Regions from separate parts of the Homo sapiens genome. Here region 2 is linked to region 1. The links come from fine-mapping of genetic effects on gene expression. A gene starts in region 1. The other region holds a variant in brackets. All regions are shown on one strand. Distances are between the middles of the regions. Region 1 holds the start of LINC02693 (long intergenic non-protein coding RNA 2693). Region 2 has its middle 45 kb from the start of LINC02693.

The links.
Region 2: its variant is fine-mapped to the expression of LINC02693 in monocytes (TOPMed, PIP 0.91).

What each region holds. Positions count from the first base shown.
Region 1 is chr17:21,546,557-21,556,017 of GRCh38, forward strand. It overlaps LINC02693 (long intergenic non-protein coding RNA 2693), which reads right to left and starts at 5,122. Exons shown (of 2, transcript NR_160801.1): 1 at 4,440-5,122. RefSeq lists a silencer at 5,016-5,185.
Region 2 is chr17:21,591,636-21,601,096 of GRCh38, forward strand. It overlaps the pseudogene LOC100533653. Among named protein-coding and RNA genes, the nearest start is that of LINC02693, 45 kb to the left of the region's middle. The variant A/G (reference allele first, on the strand shown) is at 4,982.

The DNA.
Region 1 (9,461 bases):
CTAATAAAAATGTTGTAAACTTAACCATGGTTTTGGTTGCACATATCTGTGATTATACTAAACCCTAGCAGATCATAAGGTATGTGAATTTTTCCTCAATAAAGCTGTTTAAAAATAAAAAAAAAATTAGGCTGGGCACAGCAACTTACCCTGTAATACCAGCACTTGGGGAGGCTGAGGCAGGAGGATTGTTTGAGGCTAGGAGTTCAAGACCAGCCTGGACAATAGAGTGAGACCCCATCTCTACAAAAGATTTAAAAAATTTAGCCAAGCATGGTGGTGCGCACTTGTAGTCCTAGGTACTTAGGAGGCTGATGTGGGAGGATCACTTGAGCCTGAGAGGTGAAGGCTGCAGTGAGCCGTGATCATGCTACTGCAATCCAGCCTGGGAGACAGAGAAACATCCCAACTCAAAAAAAAAATTATTACGAACTATTTTATACATACAAAATTACACAGACACACACACATACACAGACTCACATAAAAGTAAAATAAATACATTGTACCCATCACCTGCACCACTACATTTGAAGCCATCTGCATGGTTGGCCCTTCTGAAATGTAACCCCATCTGGGACAATCATTCATCTGAAGCTTTACAAAAAGTATTTCCCTGACTTTCATTATACTTTTATTACATAATAATATCTCTAAATAATATATTGTTTCTCTAAATAATATACTGTTTAACTTTGTAAGTTTTTACACTTTCTATAAATGTGCTGTGTATCTCTGTAACTTGCATTACTCATTCCACATTGTATTTTCGAGAGCCTTCTATGTTTTAAGTAGTTTCTCATTCAATTCTATATATTGCTTACTAATTAGCCTTTAAATTGAATATACTAAGACCTGCTGGAGAGAGAATTCTTGTGGGATAATGAGTATAAAGTGCTTAAAGCAGTGCCCCATTCATTATAGGTATTCAATATATGTAATACTATACACAATATTTTAATACTGAGTAATTATATACATATTATGATTGCTTGTTTCTTTGTGGATGTACATTATTTCATCAACTGCACTATGAACTAATAGTTTTCTTTCTTCTAGGGGAGGGGGCGGGGTCTGGCACTGTTGCCCAGGCTGAAGTACACTGGTGCGATCACGGCTCACTGCAGCCTAGACCTCCCGGGCTCAAGGATCCTCCCACCTCAGCCTCCTGAGTAGCTGTGTCTATCAGCAGTGCCACCACTCCCAGCTAATTTTTAAATTTTTTGTAGAGATGGGGTTTCACCATGTTGCCCAGGCTGGTCTCTAACTCCTAGCTCAAGTGATCTGCCCACCTTAACCTCCCAAAGTGCTGGGATTACCGCTGTAAGCCATTATGCTGGGCAAGAGTTTTCAAACTACGGTAAAATTCAAGTTACAGATACCTTTGGGAAATGCCTCATTCTAAGTATTTGAAGCTTCCAGATAGCTAAGATTAAAAATTTTTACATACTAACTTGTTTCTAAGTGTATGCTTTTACATTTAAACAAACTAAAAACATAAGCTTTATAAAAAAATTTCAGCCATTTCCAAATTCTCTTCCAAACTTGTTTAGAAACATACATGACAGAGCTTTGGTCGGATTGTGCAAACTGTTGTGTGTTCTGTTTTTAAAATATTACTTAACTTGTACACTTCCACACATTGGCATGGCACATCATTGCCATTTCCAATACGTTCCTGTGCTTCACCAATTTCCATAGCTGTCAGAGGGAGAGCAGCCCAGGTGACAGGAAATGAAGTTGTCTGGCTCCGAGTCCTTACTAGGAGGACTTCTGGGATCCAGAATCTTTGCATGGGGCAGATGACATATTCTTAGAGGCCATTCATTTTTTCCACTGTAGCTGCTAGTGCCAGTTTCCACTCCACTGCCTGAGGGCAGGTTGATCTTGTAAGCCATCACCGATGGATTTGTGGTCACTGCCTGGAACCCTGTGCCAAAGAGGACTGGGAGGTCCCATTCAGGAGGGAATCCTCTGACTTATTACTGGCATCTGAGCATCTCCCAGCATGGCTGTTCCTACTTGTAATAAGGTGATGTCAAATGACTCCAGGGCAGTGCTCCGGTTCCCATGAACACATCTGGTCACTCTGGGAGCTTTTGAGTCAGTGAGCTCTCTCCTCACATCCCGATACACTGTTGTTTGCAAAAATATATTTTTATAGGCAAGGTATTTGTGTTTTGGATTTGCACCCTGATGCAGGCATTAATTTGTTTAAAAGGATAATTTAACATTTTCAGGAAGCTGAACATCTTTAAATTCTCTTTTGATTATTTCTAGTTTTATTGCATTATGACCCAGAAATGTGTACAATTTTTGTTCTTGTATACTCACTAAGGATTCTTCTTGTTTTCAGAGTAGGACCAAAGGTATTTCTATTTGTTTGCAAGTCTGTTGGCTCAGTTTCTAAAGAGTTCATTTTGTTACCATGTTCTTTTAAGTATATACATACAGGTTAGTTACGTTTCCAGTTTCCTGTGCTTTTTATTTTTTTTTTAAACAAGCTTTTCTGGCCCTTCATTCTCTCAGACTTTTCCTTCCATGCCTTATGCTGTAGATAAAGTCTATGATCTAACGTCTGTCAGTTAAGATTGTTTTCAGCTCTGGAGACCAGAAAATCTGACCCACATAGCAAGAACAAGCAAGGGCAGGAGATGAGGCTGAAGAGGCAGGCACCAGGTTGTCTGAGCTTTTATTCTACTGCAATGAGTAGATAGTGGCAGGGTTTACACAGGGGTGGGGGTATGCCTATATCATGTTTTAACATTTTCAAGAGATCACTCTGGATGCTTGAGTGGAGGCTGGACTGTAGCAGGGCAAGACAAGATGCAGGGAGGTTGGAGGATTCTTGGCAGTAGCCCAGTAGGAGAGGAAGGTGACTGAAACTGGTTGTGGAAATGGAGATGGTGAATCAGGATGCTGGTTGCACTCAAGAGCCACAGGACTTGCTGTGTGGTTGCATGGGGGTTGGGGGAGAAGGGAAAAGAGTCAGGGATGACTCTTGGTGCTCCCCTCAGGGAAGAGGCCCCAAGCCTAGTGGTTATCAACAGATGGATGGTATTTAAAGCTATGAGACTGTGTGGGATCATTCTGAGAGGATCACTAGAGATCTGGTGGAGGAGGAGCAGGAGGATGAGGATAAAGGTGAGAGGGAATCCAGGAGGGAAGGTCCCTAAAATCCAGAAGAAAGGGTGGAACTCCTCAATTGTATCGTCTGTGTCAAATGCAGCTAAATGACTGAGATAAAAGTCGTTTCAGCAAAGTACCTTGGAGGAAAGCTGGAAAGGAGTGGGTGCAAGAGAGGACATGAGGTGAGGAAGTTGCATGGAGCAGAGAAACAGAATGGTAAATGGAGAGAAACCTGGGGTTAAAAAAGGTCTATTTGTTTAATGCACAGCATTAAGGAATGCTTGTGTGTGGACACTAGCAAAAAATCAGTACAGAGAACCCCAGAATTCTGGGGTCATAGCCCGAAAGGACTCCTCAGCTCCAAATTTACTTGAAGTTACAGCTTCCATCTTTAAATTAAATGGGATTTTTTTTTTTTTTGCCATCTATTTCATCATACAGGATGTGACACAGAATATATCTGAAAGTATAACTTTCCTGGAAGAACACATCTTAGTTTTTAATATCTAAACTGTATAGCAGCTATTTATCTCACAAAACATTTTTCAGGCTGAGTGCGGTTGGTGACTCACGCCTGTGATTCCAGCACTTTGGGAGGCCAAGGCAGGAAAATTGCTTGAGTCTAGAAGTTCGAGGCCAGCCTGGGCAATGTGGGGAGATGTAGTTTCTACAAAAAATTTAGAAATTAACAGGCATGGTGGCACAAACCTGTGGTCTCAGCTACTGGGGAGGCTGAAGCAGGTGGATCGCTGGAACCCCTTTCGTGGTGCAGTTTGGGCAAAAGAGCAAGAACCTGTCTCAAATTTTTTGGCTGATGGTTGTAGACATAATGTTTGAGCTTTCAAAAATTACAACATTTTAAACTAAATAGTTTGCTGGAAAAAACCACATGTTCCTTCCAGAAACAACTGGTAGACCATCAGGATCATGACAGTCACTTCAAAAAGCTTTGGTGTGTTGACAAAGGGGAGGTTCACGTGTGATGTTGCTGGTCGCACAGCTACTGCATCCAAGGCAAATGCATGTTAACAACCATATCAAATGTGGGTGACCAAGTGGCAACATTTAAGCATTTTACATCCTAACTTATGTGCAACTTAAACCTACTGCCACACTGTGAGTTAGGAAATTGGTAGGTTTTTTTCTATTGACTTGTTGTGCCCTATAATTTTTCCTATTTAAAATAATGGGAAACAAGTTTTCAGTTTTTTTCTCAGAAAAAGTCTGACATTTCAGGCACAGATATGTCTGACAGTTATTACCAGCAGAAGAGTTTCTAGCCTTTTCATCGTAAAATTTTAATTACTTACCTTGGAAATTACTTAACTTCGTTCCTTCCAAATCTGGTAGTAAAATGGGTGCTCCAGAAAGCTGTGGCACGGATATTCTGCTGCTTTGCTCGTCTCTGCACAGACCTGGGGCTTGAGGAGCCTGCAGCCACGAAGTACAGGACGTCATCAGAATGGAAAAGCGATCCAGATGGTCCCGCAGGCGCAGTGCTGGGGCGTAAAGTGCAGCCTGTGCACGGCGGGTGGGAGGCGCGCGGGCTCGCCGGGGCTCGGGACTGTGTTCTTGCAGCCGAGAGGCCCACACAGGACAAGGAGGCCTGACCCAGGCTGTTGGAGCCCGCGAAGAGGGGGTGAAACTCCAAGGGGCGTAAGGGTGATCACACGTGCGGCCAAGCTTCCCGTCTGCATGGCGAGGGGCTGGGCCTTTCCGTCGTGATTTTTCTCCCATTATGCCGGGCGCGTAGCGGGCCCTGGGGCGGCGGGACCGGTGCGGGCGTTCAGTCAGCCCGGGGTCCTGGAGGCCGGCGGGGGGATTCGCAGCAGCCCGAGGGACGGATGGATGGCAGAAAGGAGTCTCTACTTCCAGGTTCCCAGTGATCGCTATGTTCCTTACAAGCAGTAAACTCACGACTTCAGACACCCGCCACGGAGCTCCGCGCGCAGTCCTCAAACAGCCAGCCACGCCGGCCGGGCGCACAGCGCATGCCCCGGGGTCGGGGCGGGGCGGAGGAGACGGGGCGGGGCGGAGGGGACGGGGCGGGGCGGAGGGGACGAGGCGGAGCCGGGCGGGGTTGAGGGGACGGGGCGGGGCTTGGCGGGGGCGGAGCCGCCCAGCGCTGAATCCAAATCGTATCTAAGCTATTTTCTAGCTCTGACATCGTATACATCACTGCATACGTGAATAGCATGCCAAATACTGTATAAACCAATACTGGTTTTTTTCTTCTCGGGAGGTACTATATAAATAAAGCACGTACACGGTATCTAATATCAGAACATTCAAATCCCATATTGAAAAGATTATAAATTGACCATAATCCTATAATTCTGTTTAGCAACAGTGCGTTCCTTCTCAGTCTTCACTTTTAAAATATCTAAGAGGCTCGATGTCTTGAGGCTTTTTCTTTTTAAACCCAACATCCTTTTTCACATTTATTAGTTTAGTACTTTGGTTTTACTCAATAAAAAGGTGGGGTTAAAAAAATCTGAATTATTCTGCAATGTTTCAGGCAACAGAGGCTGAAAACAACACTGTTAAGGCGGGGGGACAATTCTTATACTCTGTGAGTCTTCTTGTTTAATTTTCATTAAATTTCCAGAATAATAAGCGTAGGATAGCTAACGTTTGTCTTTGCGTCGTAGATTAGTTAACCTTTACTGAATTCACAATATGGCATCAGAGATTTAATCTGCATTTCCTAATTCTTATAAATTAAAGCTGAAGTTTAAGCTTCATTCGCACGTCACAAATACCACTTGCCCTGAATAAATAATGTTTTTAGAAGTGAGCATTCCTGATCTCCCTGTTTGTTAAGAATTGTCTTCTTTTTTCAGCTGCTACTCTGCTAAGACAAGAGTTAGCCCCTGAGCTATGTTATCAGTTCAAGGCTTTGCAGATAGCGCTGTATCGTGGGGGAAAAATGAACATGGTTTTCAAAAAGGAGGAGAACATTTCTATAACGTTGAGACTTTTAGTAATCAGGGCTATTGATGTCAGATGGCTGTTGGGACAAATGACATCATAAAAAATACAAAATTTAAAATTATGTTTGTTTATGTTTGTTTGTTTTCAGATTTCTTAGTAGTAAAGGGGCTGTGTTTTCACTCAGGCTTATATGATGATGACATTTCTCAGACCAGCAGCTATCTGCTAGCATTCTGTCCTGGACTTGGGGTGCACCTGTGACAGTAGCTGGGCTTGTCATCCAGTGAATAGCTCATAGTTGACTCCTCTCCATCAGTATAAGCATGGGTGTGGGTGACTGCATGGTAGAGGGGGCCGGGGTAGCCAGGGACCAGAGGTTAGTGAACCATTGGGTAAGATGTATAACTGTTACTCAGGCTCATAATTTTTCAACTTTTTCAGATAGTAATAACAAGAAAGTCCATCCTTACCAGTGTCAGTCTCTGTTTTAAGTGTTGTTCATATATTACCTCATTTAATTATCACACCAACCCTATGAGACTCAGAATGTAAATAGGCTACTGAGGTCACATTGCTGGTGGATCTTAATCTCAGGCCAGCTTGGCTCCTAAGTGTGTGTTCTCACTCTATTGCCTCTAGAACAGGAAGGAATATATGGATACTGTAAATTGTTAAAGAACAAGTTGAAAGAATTTTATTTCCGGCAACATGGGCTGACAAGAACCAGAAAACAACAAAAACTTCTGGAATACATATCAAGAACCATTTTAAAAAATGTATCAATGAGCTGCAAAATAATTAAGAGTTCGCAAAGGCAAAAAAATTAAAATTAAAAAGTGAAAGTAGAAACCCAAAGAAGTAATTAGATGCCATTTTTCACCCTTAAGATAGTTGCCAAGTGTCATACTGAAACTCTCTTTTCATAGTCTGGGAAGAGGATGGGGCAGCAGAATAGCAGACAAAGTTTAGATCCTGTCCAAGGTAGGACGGTTAGCAGAAGACATCAAAAGTAGGACACCAGCCGGGCGCGGTGGCTCAAGCCTGTAATCGCAGCACTTTGGGAGGCTGAGGCGGGCGGATCACGAATTCAGGAGATCGAGACTACCCTGGCTAACACGGTGAAACCCCATCTCTACTAAAAATACAACAATTAGCCGGGCGTAGTGGCGGGCGCCTGTAGTCCCAGCTACTCGGGAGGCTGAGGCAGGAGAATGGCGTGAACCCGGGAGGTGGAGGTTGCAGTGAGCCGAGATTGCGCCACTGCACTCCAGCCTGGGCGACAGAGCCAGACTCTGTCTCAAAAAAAAAAAAAAAAAAAAAAAAAAAAAAAGTAGGACACCAAAAAGATAGGTTTAGTGTAGGAGGGAACTATGAATCAACCTGTCTGCCTCCCCTGTCTCCTGCCCCCTCAATCCCTGCAGCCCCTGGAGCAGCAGACAAGATTATCCATCCTGAGGGAAAACATCCCTCCTGAGAGTGAGGATACATTAATATATAACCATGGGCAGCCCTTCCACTGGTGGCTTCACACACAAACTGTATAATCTAAAAAGTCTCAAGCTGCAAATTTAAAGTGACATCAGGTTTTTAATGCCTTCCAGGTGCCTGGCAAAAGCAAAATGGAAGACAGCTTCATGGAATGTAAGTTTTTAATCAAAAATCACAAACATTTATAATGGGCAAGAGCCAGCAGAAACAATGTACAGAGGAGAAAACCTACAGAGACTTAAGATATTAGAGTCACCAAACATCACATAAAGTGTGTCTTACATGTAAAGAAACAAGGGGATTAAAGAGCATGAGTATGAAAATAACCAAGTAGATTGGGAAAAATTACCAAATAGAAATCTAGATTTGAAAAATACCATAATTGAAATGGAAAGTTTAATGGATTAGTGTCACAGCCAACTAGATACTACCAAAAAGAGAATAATGGATATGAAGAAATAAAGACATTTTTAGACTTGTAAAGACTTAAGACTTTCTTACCTGGAGACCTGCACCACAAGAAAAATTAAAGGATGTCTTTTAGGCCTTAAGAAGGATACCATATTGAAATCTAGATCTGCACAAAGGAATGAAGAACACTGGAAATAGTAACAACATGGACAAATATATGATTTGTTATTATTACTTAAGCCTCTTTAAAATATAATTGTTTAAACAAAAATAATAAAGTACTATGGAATTTACAACATGTAAAATAAAATGGATGACAGTCATAGCTTAAAGACTAGGAGGGAAGAAGTATACTGATGTAAGTTTCTTATACTAAAATGATATATTATCACTTGAAGGTAGACTGTGATCAGTTGAAGACATGCACTATAAACACTAAAGCAACCACTAAAATAACAAGCCAAAGAATTGTAGCTGTTCAGGATAACACAAACAATCTCATCAAAAAGTGGACTAAGGACATGAATAGACAATTCTCAAAAGAAGATATACTAATGGCCAACAAACATATGAAAAAAATGCTCAACTTCACTAATTATCAGAGAAATGCAAATCAAAACCACAACACGATACCACCTTAATCCTGCAAGAATGACCATAATAAAAGAATCAAAAAATTAAAATAGATGTTGGTGTGGATGTGGTGAGAAGGGAACACTTTTACACTGTTGGTGGGAATGTAAACTAATACAACCACTATGGAAAACAGTGTGGCGATTCCTTAAAGAACTAAAAGTAGATCTACCACTTGATCCAGCAATCCCACTTCTGGTTATCTACCCAGAGGAAAATAAATCATTACATGAAAAAGATACTTGCACATGCATGTTTATAGCAGCATCATTCACAATTGCAAAAATAAGGAACCAGCCCAAATGCTCATCGATCAACGAGTGAATAAAGAAAATGTGGCATATATGTGTATATGTATGTATGTGTGTATATGTATGTATGTGTGTATATATATGTGTGTGTGTGTGTGTATATATATATACACACACACACGCATACATACCATGGAATACTACTTAGCCATAAAAAGGAACGAAATAATGGCATTTGCAACAACCTGGATGGAATTGGAGACCATTATCCCAAGTGAAGTAGCTCGGAAATGGAAAACCAAACATTGTATATTGTTACTCGTAAGTGGGAGCTAAGCTATGAGGATGCAAAGGCATAAGAATGATACAATGGACTTTGGGGACTTGGGGGAAAGGGTGGGAGGGGGTCGAGGGATAAAAGACTACACATTAGGTACAGTGTACACTGCTCTGGTGATGGATGCACAAAAATCTCAGACATTGCCACTAAAAAACTTATTCATGTACAAAACACTGCCTGTTCCCCGCAAAAACCTATTGAAATAAAAATAAAGAAGGGTAAAGAGGAAGCAGAAAAAAAAAAAAAAACTGAAAAGCAACCAGTAAAGGAGAGTA
Region 2 (9,461 bases), 45 kb after region 1:
CTCATGGGAAGAATATATAATAATAGTCAAGAGGGCTTGGGAGGAAAACAGACTAGTGTTGGCTAATCCATTACATACTCTGGGGAAATTGTTTGAACCATATTCACACCCTGTTAATAAAACCTATCCCATATGGTTAAAATGCGCATCCAATAACATGTCTTTAATGTGTTTAGCACAACATCCAGCTAACTGTACCAATTGTGATAATGGTAACAAAGAAGTGGTCTGAAGCAAACAGAGAGGGAAAGCCCTTATTCCACTTCCATAATCTCCATCATTCTTGCCCCAAAGAGTATGTAACATACAATATAATTAAAAAGGAGTATAGGACATTTAAGATTTCCAGGCTTATCTTCTGAACAACTTGCCATTAAATTCTTCTGCTGCAGATATTATAGACACTTTATAAAGTAAGCACTCAAAATCCTCGTCTCCCTGGTCATCCTCATGTTTGTTTGCCACTGGCATCCTAGAGAATGAACTGGCCTTCTCAATAACATTTTTTTTTGGGGGGCGGAGTCTTGCTCTTTCGCCCAGGCCGGACTGCAGTGGCACAATCTCGGCTCACTGCAAGCTCTGCCTCCCGGGTTCACGCCATTCTCCTGCCTCAGCCTCCCCAGTAGCTGGGACTACAGGCGCCCGCCATGGCGCCCGTCTAATTTTTTTCGTATTTTTAGTGGAGACGGGGTTTCACCGTGTTAGCCAGGATGGTCTCGATCTCCTGACCTCGTGATCCGCCCGCCTCGGCCTCCCAAAGTGCTGGGATTACTGGCACGAGCCACCGCGCCCGGCCCTCGGTAACATTTTGACTTGATCTGTCAAGGCGCTTTCGTCAGTGCTTCTGGGCCGCGGCCGCCACCTACAGCCTCCACAGTGCCCGGCGTCCCGGAGCTGGCTCCACTCCAGTTCCTGAGCACCAAGGCTGCAGAAGCTGAGGCCCCTGACGGAGGCGCCAAGGCCCTGGGGGTGGTTGCTTGAGTCCCGAGCCTGTCTCCTGAAAGGCCAAGGGTGGCCTGCACCTCGCTGACAGCTGTTCCCTGCACTGTTCAGCCCCTCCTGGGAAGCCAGTGACAGCCCCTGCAGCATGCACTCAGCTGCTCCTGCCCCGCAGGTGGGGCTCATTTGCCTCCAGCCCCACTCCAGCCCCTGAGACTAGAAGGAACCGGACGAGGAGGTGTGCAACCTGACCAAGGTGGTCCTAGCGGGGAGCTTCGCTCCAGCGCTCTTCCGGGGAGGCTGGCTCACTTCTGGGACAGTGGCCAACCCAGGCCTGCGACCACCTGCTGAGCCGGTGACCGACGCCGCCTGACCCTCCCTCGCCCGCCAGGGTCCAACGCCCGCTGGACGAATCCCTGCTACACAGAGGGCTCTGGTACCTGCCGTGCCTCATTTAACGGGGCGCCAGGGCCAGGCGCCTCTGGCTGCGCTTTCAGCCCCAAGACTTCTAAGGCTTGGACCCCGCTGTGCGAGCTGTTCAGTGAGATCTGCTGCTGGAGGGCTGGGCTGCATCTAGGAGGGGTTGATGGTGTCTCATCCCTGCAGTCCTATGGAAAGAGGCTGTCTCAGAGAGGGGAGATGGGCAAGCCAGCTGTGGATACTCGGCTGGATGGCCTGGACGCAGCCCTCAACAGCTTGGAGGAGAAGCTGGAGGGCTAGGTACCCACAGAAGGGCTGGAAGCCTGGCCACTGTCACATAAGTCAAGGAGTGTCCCCAAATCTCCCAGCCCCAGAAGCTGACCCTGAAGGGCTAAGGCCAGCATTGGGAGCTGTTCAAGGAACCCATGCAATCCTGCCATGAGAGCCAGGCCACGCTCCAGTGCACACCTGCCCCACACCCTAGGCAGCTCAACCTCAAGGGCTGTGACGGCATTTCTGGTGTTAGTGTCTCTGGCTGTGAGTTCTGCATCCAACTCACCGGAGGCAAGCGACCCCCACCTGCGGGGCAGAAGCAGCCGGGTGCATGCTGCAGGGGCTGCCGCTGGCTTCCCAGGAGGGGCTGCACCGTGCAGGGAACAGCCGCCAGCGAGGTGCAGGCCTTCCAGCAGACAGGCACCGGGTTCGGCAACCACCCCCAGGGCAGTGGCGCCGTTGTCAGGGGCCTCAGCCTCTGTGGTCTTGGTACTCCCTCCACACCCCCAACCCTGCACTTCCACAAAAGTTCAAGGCCAAGCAGCTCATCCCACGGATCCTGGAAGCCCTCAGAATGTGGCCTGGCTCTTACCGACCAGGCCCATCTGTGCCTCCATCAGGCCTGGCAATCCTTGCCTGACTTTGGCATCTACTACCTCATGGTCAGGCTCAAGAGCAGAAAAGATCCTGGGACTCGTCAACAATCAACAGTTCACATCGACTTGACAGTTGGTGATGTGGTGACCTGGGTTTCAGCGATATGTGGTACTGGGATGTCAACTGGGATACCAGCAGGCGGTTATCCACATGGCCTTCAGCTGCGTGTTTCCCATCTGTCCAGTTATGCACAACCACTTGAGGGGCTACATTTTCCTGTTGATCCAGAGTGGGACCCTGGGGAGGAGCTGGATGAGGGGATCTCTTCCTGCAGCTCAGGGATGGCGGCCTTCTAAGGGCTGTCTGACTGCCCCTGTCCTGCTCATCCTCTGCGGCTAGGCTCCCAAGCCCATACCCACTGGGTCTGGCTGCCCCACACCTGCTCCAGGCAGTCACTGAGCTGGGCATGTTCACCTGGTGCCACTGGCTTTGTGCAGGCCAGGGACCTGGCTGAGCCAGACTCTGCCATCATCCAGGCTAGCTAGGGACAGGGGTCCTGAGCTCACAGAGTGCCCGCTTCCCTTGTCAAAGAGGCTGAGGCCAACACCCCTGACCTCTCTGTAGTCCCTGAGCACACAAAGAAGTCCAACTCTAACTATGGGATGATGAGTCCTGGTTTCAAACTGAAGTTTATGTCTTCTTACTTTTAAAAACTAGAAATCACTGTAATTCCCCAAGAAGATAAGGTGTCATGAATGTATTTTTTAACTGTCGTAGACTTATTGAAGTGAGTTTTGCAGTTCTAGTAATCCACAGGACACATTTAAAAAATTGAATAATCTACCTTTGTTTCAGTGTCGGTTACTGATCTTGGTACGGCATTGGAAAGTAAACATGATGTAAAAAATCGCTGGTCTTATATAATTTATATTCTAGCAGGTAAGAGAAACAAACTGTGTATTAGTAGAATATACAGTGCATCAGGTGGTTCTAAGGAGGAAAACAAAGCAGGGCAGAAAAATGAAGTGCTTAGAAAAAGTTTTAGTAATACGATTAAGGTAAGCACCACTTTGAGGAAATATTCGAGCAAAATGATGACTATGGTAAATATTCATTAGGAAAAAATGGAATTTTTGTAAAATGGGAGATGATGTAGGTGAAGAATTTGACAGTTGTGGATATATTAATTTTGGGATTTCCATTAAATAGTTAATTGGAGATGTTAAGTAAGCATTTAAACATATAAATCTGAAACTCAGGGGAGAGTTCTGGCCTGGATATAAAATGTTGAAAATCATTGCTATATTGTTCTTTTGGGCATGTTCAGCTGCATGGGTGCTGGCAAGGATTAGACACACAGACAGTTGCATTTAACCAAGGTTGTAATTTTGGCAGTAGAGCTGAATAAAGCAAGGGAAAGACAAATGAATTGAAGTTGCATAAGCTCTAGAAATTTCAAGTTGATAATTAACTTCAATTTGTTTGAGGAAGATAGATGGGAAGCGAAGGGTTATGGATAGTAAAAAGTTGATAGAAACAGTAGATCATTGTTTCTGTTGAAGCTCACACTTTGTTTCTAGATATATTGTTTTATGGCCAAATGGAGATACTAGCATAAAAAATAGAATGGTTTTTATTAAATAACATTAAATGGAAAAGTGTATTTTGAGTTGTCACTTTATATAAAAAAGTTGAAGAGACATAAGAGTTATAGTGATTTACATCTTTATAAGGTAGTTTTAAAGAGAGATTTGGGGAATGATGAAGGTTAAATGATTAACACACAAACTAAGATTAAATGAGCTGGGCATTGTGACTCATGCCTGTAATCCCAACATTTTGGGAGGCTGAGGTGGGTGGATCGCTTGACCCCAGGAGTTTGAGACCAACCTGCGTAACATAGTGAGACCCTGTCTCTACAAAAAATACAAAAATTAGCCAAGTGTTTTTGCATGCACTTGTAGTCCCAGCTACTGAGGAGGCTGAGTTGGGAGAGATGCTTGAGTCTGGGAGGTTGAGGCAGCAATGAGTTATGATTGTACTATTGCACTCCAGCCTGGGTGACAGACTGAGATCCTGGGAAAGAAAAGAAAAGAAGATGAGAGAAGGGAGAAAAGGGGAGGAGAGGGGAGGGAGAGAAGAGAGAGGAAGAGAAGAGAACGAAGAGAAGAGAGAGAAGAGAAGGGAAAGAAAAAGGAAAATGGAAGAGAAAAGAAAGGAGAAAGGGGAAGAGAGAAAATAAACAACAACAACAAAAACAACAATCAAATCAAACAACACATAGATTTACTGAAGCAGAAAGAAAGACCTGAGTCTATAGACCAACAGGTTGGAGCTCCAGATGACAGTGCTGAGAAAAAAAATCCCCATGGAATCACATGCTAAAGAATATGTGTTTGATTAGGAACTCCAGAGAAGGGGTAGATGCCAATAATGAAATGGAAAGAGTAACAAGGTTAGAAAAAGGAAATTAATAACTAGAGTGATCAATAACCAGAGGAAAAAACCCACAAGGTAAACCAATAAATGTAAAATAAGCCAGAAGAAATAAAATCAACTACAGTAGATCAATTGTATAATGAAATGTAAACAGATGAATTCCCATTAAAAGACAAAGGTCAGCTTGGGTTTAAAAATACAGTGATAACTGGGCAATATGGTGAGATCCCCGTCTCTCCAAAAGAAAAAAAAATACAAAAAATTAGCTGGGTGTAATGGTGCATGCCTGTAGTCCCAGCTACTGTAGAGGCTG[A/G]GGTGGGGGGATCACCTCAAACTAGAAGGTCAATGCTGAAGCAAGCTGTGATGTTGCCACTGCACTCCAGCCAGGGCAACAGAACAAGACCCTGTCTCAATCAACACCACCACCAACAAAAAAACCCAGTGATGTATATATACAAGAAAAACACTTAAACAATGATAATGGTGGAAAATAAAAGAATGCCAAGAGATACCAGGAAAGTGCAAAAGCTAAAGTAAAATAAAGAGTGGCCATAATAATAATAGAAGGGTGAAATTTAAGGTTAAGCACTGAAATGGGATAAAGAGGGACACCATGTAATGATAGGCACAATTCGTAATGAGAGAACACTCGAAATCTGCATGCTCCCAACAGCATCACAGTAAATACAAAAAGCAAAATCTAGTAAAAGATGAGATTTATAGAGAAAATTTATAGAGAAAATTATAGAGAACACTCAAAATCTGCATGCTCCCCACAGCATCATAGTAAATACAAAAAGCAAAAACTAGTAAAAGAAGAGATTTATAGACAAAATTTGAGTGGAAGGCTAAATCTCTGTTAGAACTACAGTAAAAGCCTCCTCCCCCAAAGGATACAAAAGAAGTGACAGTTTGAATAACCAAAAACTTGATTTGGTATATATGGGACCTTATATCCCTTAAATAGAAAATATATATTTTTTCTATGTCTATGAAAATCTTAGAAAAATCATTTGGCCACAAAGAAATTCATAATAAATTTTAAAAGTGGAGAGTTTACAAATTTGGAGAAAATGAATGCTTTCCTAGTAAAATATAAAGTGCCCCTAATGAACTAGATAATGAGTAGAAACTTAATTACCACTGACGAGAAAAAAATCTGCCACTGAAAAAAGCACCAGGTCCAGACGGTTTCATGAGAAGGAACTGTAGAATCCTTTAGAATTCACCTCCGTCAACACCTTCCTCCTCTGGGAAGCACTCCTGGATTTCCCTCTTGCTGACAAGATCCTGGGAGAGTGGCTTCTCCATCATGTCCCTGACACAGCTTCTTGAAGATGTACCATATCATATCATAACCATATGATATCATATCTGCATACCACATCCTAACTGGATTTGATGGCCAATATGTCCTGGAAAATAAGCTACCTGAGTGTAGGAATCACACTTTTTTATTGGTTTCTAGTGCCTGGTACAGTACAGCAGCTGACACTGGCTGACTAGGTGAATACGGTAAGTGAAAAAGCAGAATGCACAATCATCAGTACTCTGCGATGCCCTTATGGGAAATCCCCAAGACACACACATAGGAAGGAGAATAAATGAAAAGAAACCAAAATGCTAACAGTAATCAGATTGAGATTTCCCCCATTATCCAAATATTTATGATGTAGTTAAACAATTTTTATAGGGTGAATAGTAATTTATACAACCACCTGGGCCAAGGAGTAGAAGAGGAGGAGGAAGGCTCAGAGGATCTTCAGGCAGGCCCTTCTGCTACCTCGGCTTCCTTTCTCCGGCCAGGTGGTCCAGCCGCCAGGCAGACATGAAGGCCCTGACAGGGGCCTCTGCCCCACCACCTTCATGCCTCATAGGGGACCTCTAGCTAGGAGGAAGGTGATGAGACAGGGTAGGCACCCACCAGGAGCCTAAGCTGGACAGAAGGGTCCCGTGGGTCTTACCTGGCCCAGGCAGCAGCTCTGGAAATTCTATCAACACTAGATTCCTCCAAACAGAGCCTCCTAAATTTTAGCAAGAGCTCCTATGCCCTTCAGCCCCAGGGCCTTAGTCCTGTCAGCCCCATTTCCCCCTCAATATAAACCAACAGCCACTGTCCCCTCACTCTGTGGCCCAGATCCAGCTCTGAGTCTCCCTAGCTTTCGGGCATGGAGCCCCAACTGCATTCCTGGTGATCAGCTACTCCTGGTCATGACCATGGACTTTCCTATGTCCCGGAGCCTGGCACTGACCATCCATCTAGGCTGGCATTCCATACTAATGCCCACCCCTCCCTCTACTGGACACAGTCAGCTCTAGGAAGGGGAGAGAAAATCCATCTAGAATGAGGGCAACTGCTGTGGCTGGGGAAAGATGCGACAGGGCAGATGAGCTTGTCCTGGTGCCCATCTCAGGCCCCTGCAGGCTGCAGGGAGCCAGGGACTAAGAGGTGAATAACAGGTGCAGCCTTCAGGGAGATCCCCAGAGGACCATGGGGGCTGAAGGGAAGGGAGGGGTGGATGGAGAGAGCTCTTGGTGGACAGGAATGTGAAGTGAAGATGGAGGGAGACCCAAGAACCTGCTCTCTCAGAGGTCAGACACTAGACAGGCAGCAGGGCTTCTGGGTCAGCCTGGGTCTGCAGGTGAGTCAGGGGAGGGAAAGGTTGGGCCAGGCGTAATCCAGCTGAACCACCCAGGGTGGCTTCTCCAGCTTGGGGGTGGGGGAGTTGTTGTAGGAGGGAGCACAGGCAAGGGGACTCACTGGAGTCCCCTCAACTTGGCTTCAGCTTCCTGCTGATACCAGCTTCCCTTTCCAAAGGCCCCCAGCTGGCCCCGGAGTAGAACAGATGGGTCTGTCCTGAAGTCAGTTTCTTTCTCTCAATCACAGTGACTTTGGGCTGCCCTTGGAGTTTGACCTAGGAAGTGGGTGCAGGGCCTGGATCCAGAGAGGAAGGGTCACTGGATGGATTATAGGATGGGGGAAGGGGAGGACCAGGTGGAAGTTCAGGAGGGAGGGGAGAGAGTGAGGAAACTGCTGTGGCCCTCTCCTGGTCCTTCATGGGTGAGGGCTCACTCACAGTTCCCAGAAGAGGAGGAGGAACAAGGGGTCCCAGCTCCTTCCAGTCCAGGCTGCCAGCTCAGATGTGGGGCCTCCAGAGCTGTTCGTATAAGAAGTTGCAGCAGCCAGGCTCCACTGGCCTGGGCTTTCTCCTTTTGAGGCGGGATTGATGACTGCACCCTGAAATCCCCGAGTCAGGACTGCAGCAGTGGAGAGGAGGCTCAGAGGCCCCTTTATTCTCCGGGCTTTTGCCTGGCTTCCCTGGGATTCCTGAGTGGCCTCCTTTGAGGGAGGGGAAGAGTTGTCCCTGCTTACCTTCCCCTTGCCACCCTCTCTCTCCTTCAAGAGGGCTTGCTTTCTGCCCTCTCCTAGGGAGCCAGGAAACAGGAGACATCCCTCTCCTGGGACATCAAATTCTCCAACTACACCCTCAGCTGCAGATGGCAAGGTCACGATTTGGAATTCATGTCTCCTTCCCTGCTGCCCATGCCCACAACAGGGCTGGGCACACAGAGGATGATCAGAAGAATGAGCATGTGCTTGCCTTTGGCTTGTATTCTTCTTGCCGAGTCTAACAGGGTGGTCAACCCTGATGGCCACCTGGCTGAAACTGAACGTGGTGGCCTGGGTGGGTTTTATGGGCAGGAGACCTGGAACTGTCCTAGACACAGCCATTTCCTGGCAGCATGACCTTCGGCCAGTCACTAAACCTCTCTGAACATCTGTTTGTACTCAAGGCAAATGGAGGTGTCTATGTCTGCCTTCCAACTTGTTAGAAGCTTAACCCTGGGTGCAAGCCTTTGAGTAAGAGGCCACAGTACTGTTAGCCCCTTTGGGAATGTGTCTTACCATATTTTATGTCCCCTGTGTCCAACACAGTGACCAGTACATACCAAGTACTCAATATGTGAAATTAGAGTGCATGGTGAATGACAAGACTGCGCCATACATGGCAGGAGCTCCTCTCTTCTAGGGGTCTGTGGGCTTGCCCAGTAACCTGCCCTAAGCCATGAGCCGATGCCCAACAGACAGGTGTCCCCACTCTCCAATGACCCTGTGTCACTGCCACCCTCACATCGTTGCCCCCTCTGTTCTGCTCCACCTCTCCTTTCTTAAGAGATCCCTTCTCAGCAATGATCTCCTGCCCATCCACCTAAATTTGGGGATATTTCCATCTATGACCCTACACCCCCTCTATCCACACCATCTCTCTCCCCTTCTGCCTGTTGTCTACACTCTCGATCTGCATCCTCACCTTCACTCCTGACCCACTGTCCTCTGCCTTCAGCAACACCCTTGACCAGCTGGCCTTCTGGTGGCCACATTGGATAAGTGTACTATGGCCTTTATCTAACTTGACCTTTCTGTAGCCCCCTTCTTCTGGACACTTCTTGCCCTTTGGGCCAGCACTCTTGTGCTTCTCTTCCTTGATCTGTGCCTGCTTCTTCCTCTCAGGCTTCTCTTTTCCTCCCTTTGTCTGGCATCTACCTTCAGGCAGGCCCGGTGTTTCCTCCATCCTACTCTTCCTCAATTCATCTCCCCTCAGTAAATAGCACCACTGTCTGCCCATGAGTGCAAACTGGGAAGCTAGAACTCGGTCTGATTTCCCTTAGATGCCCCTCGACCACCAGACCCTGCCTACTCTACTTCTCAAACCTCCGGTCATTGCCACGTGCCCATGGTACCACCAAGGACCTTAGCCATTCTTGCAGCCCTGGCCATGGAGATTTTTTTT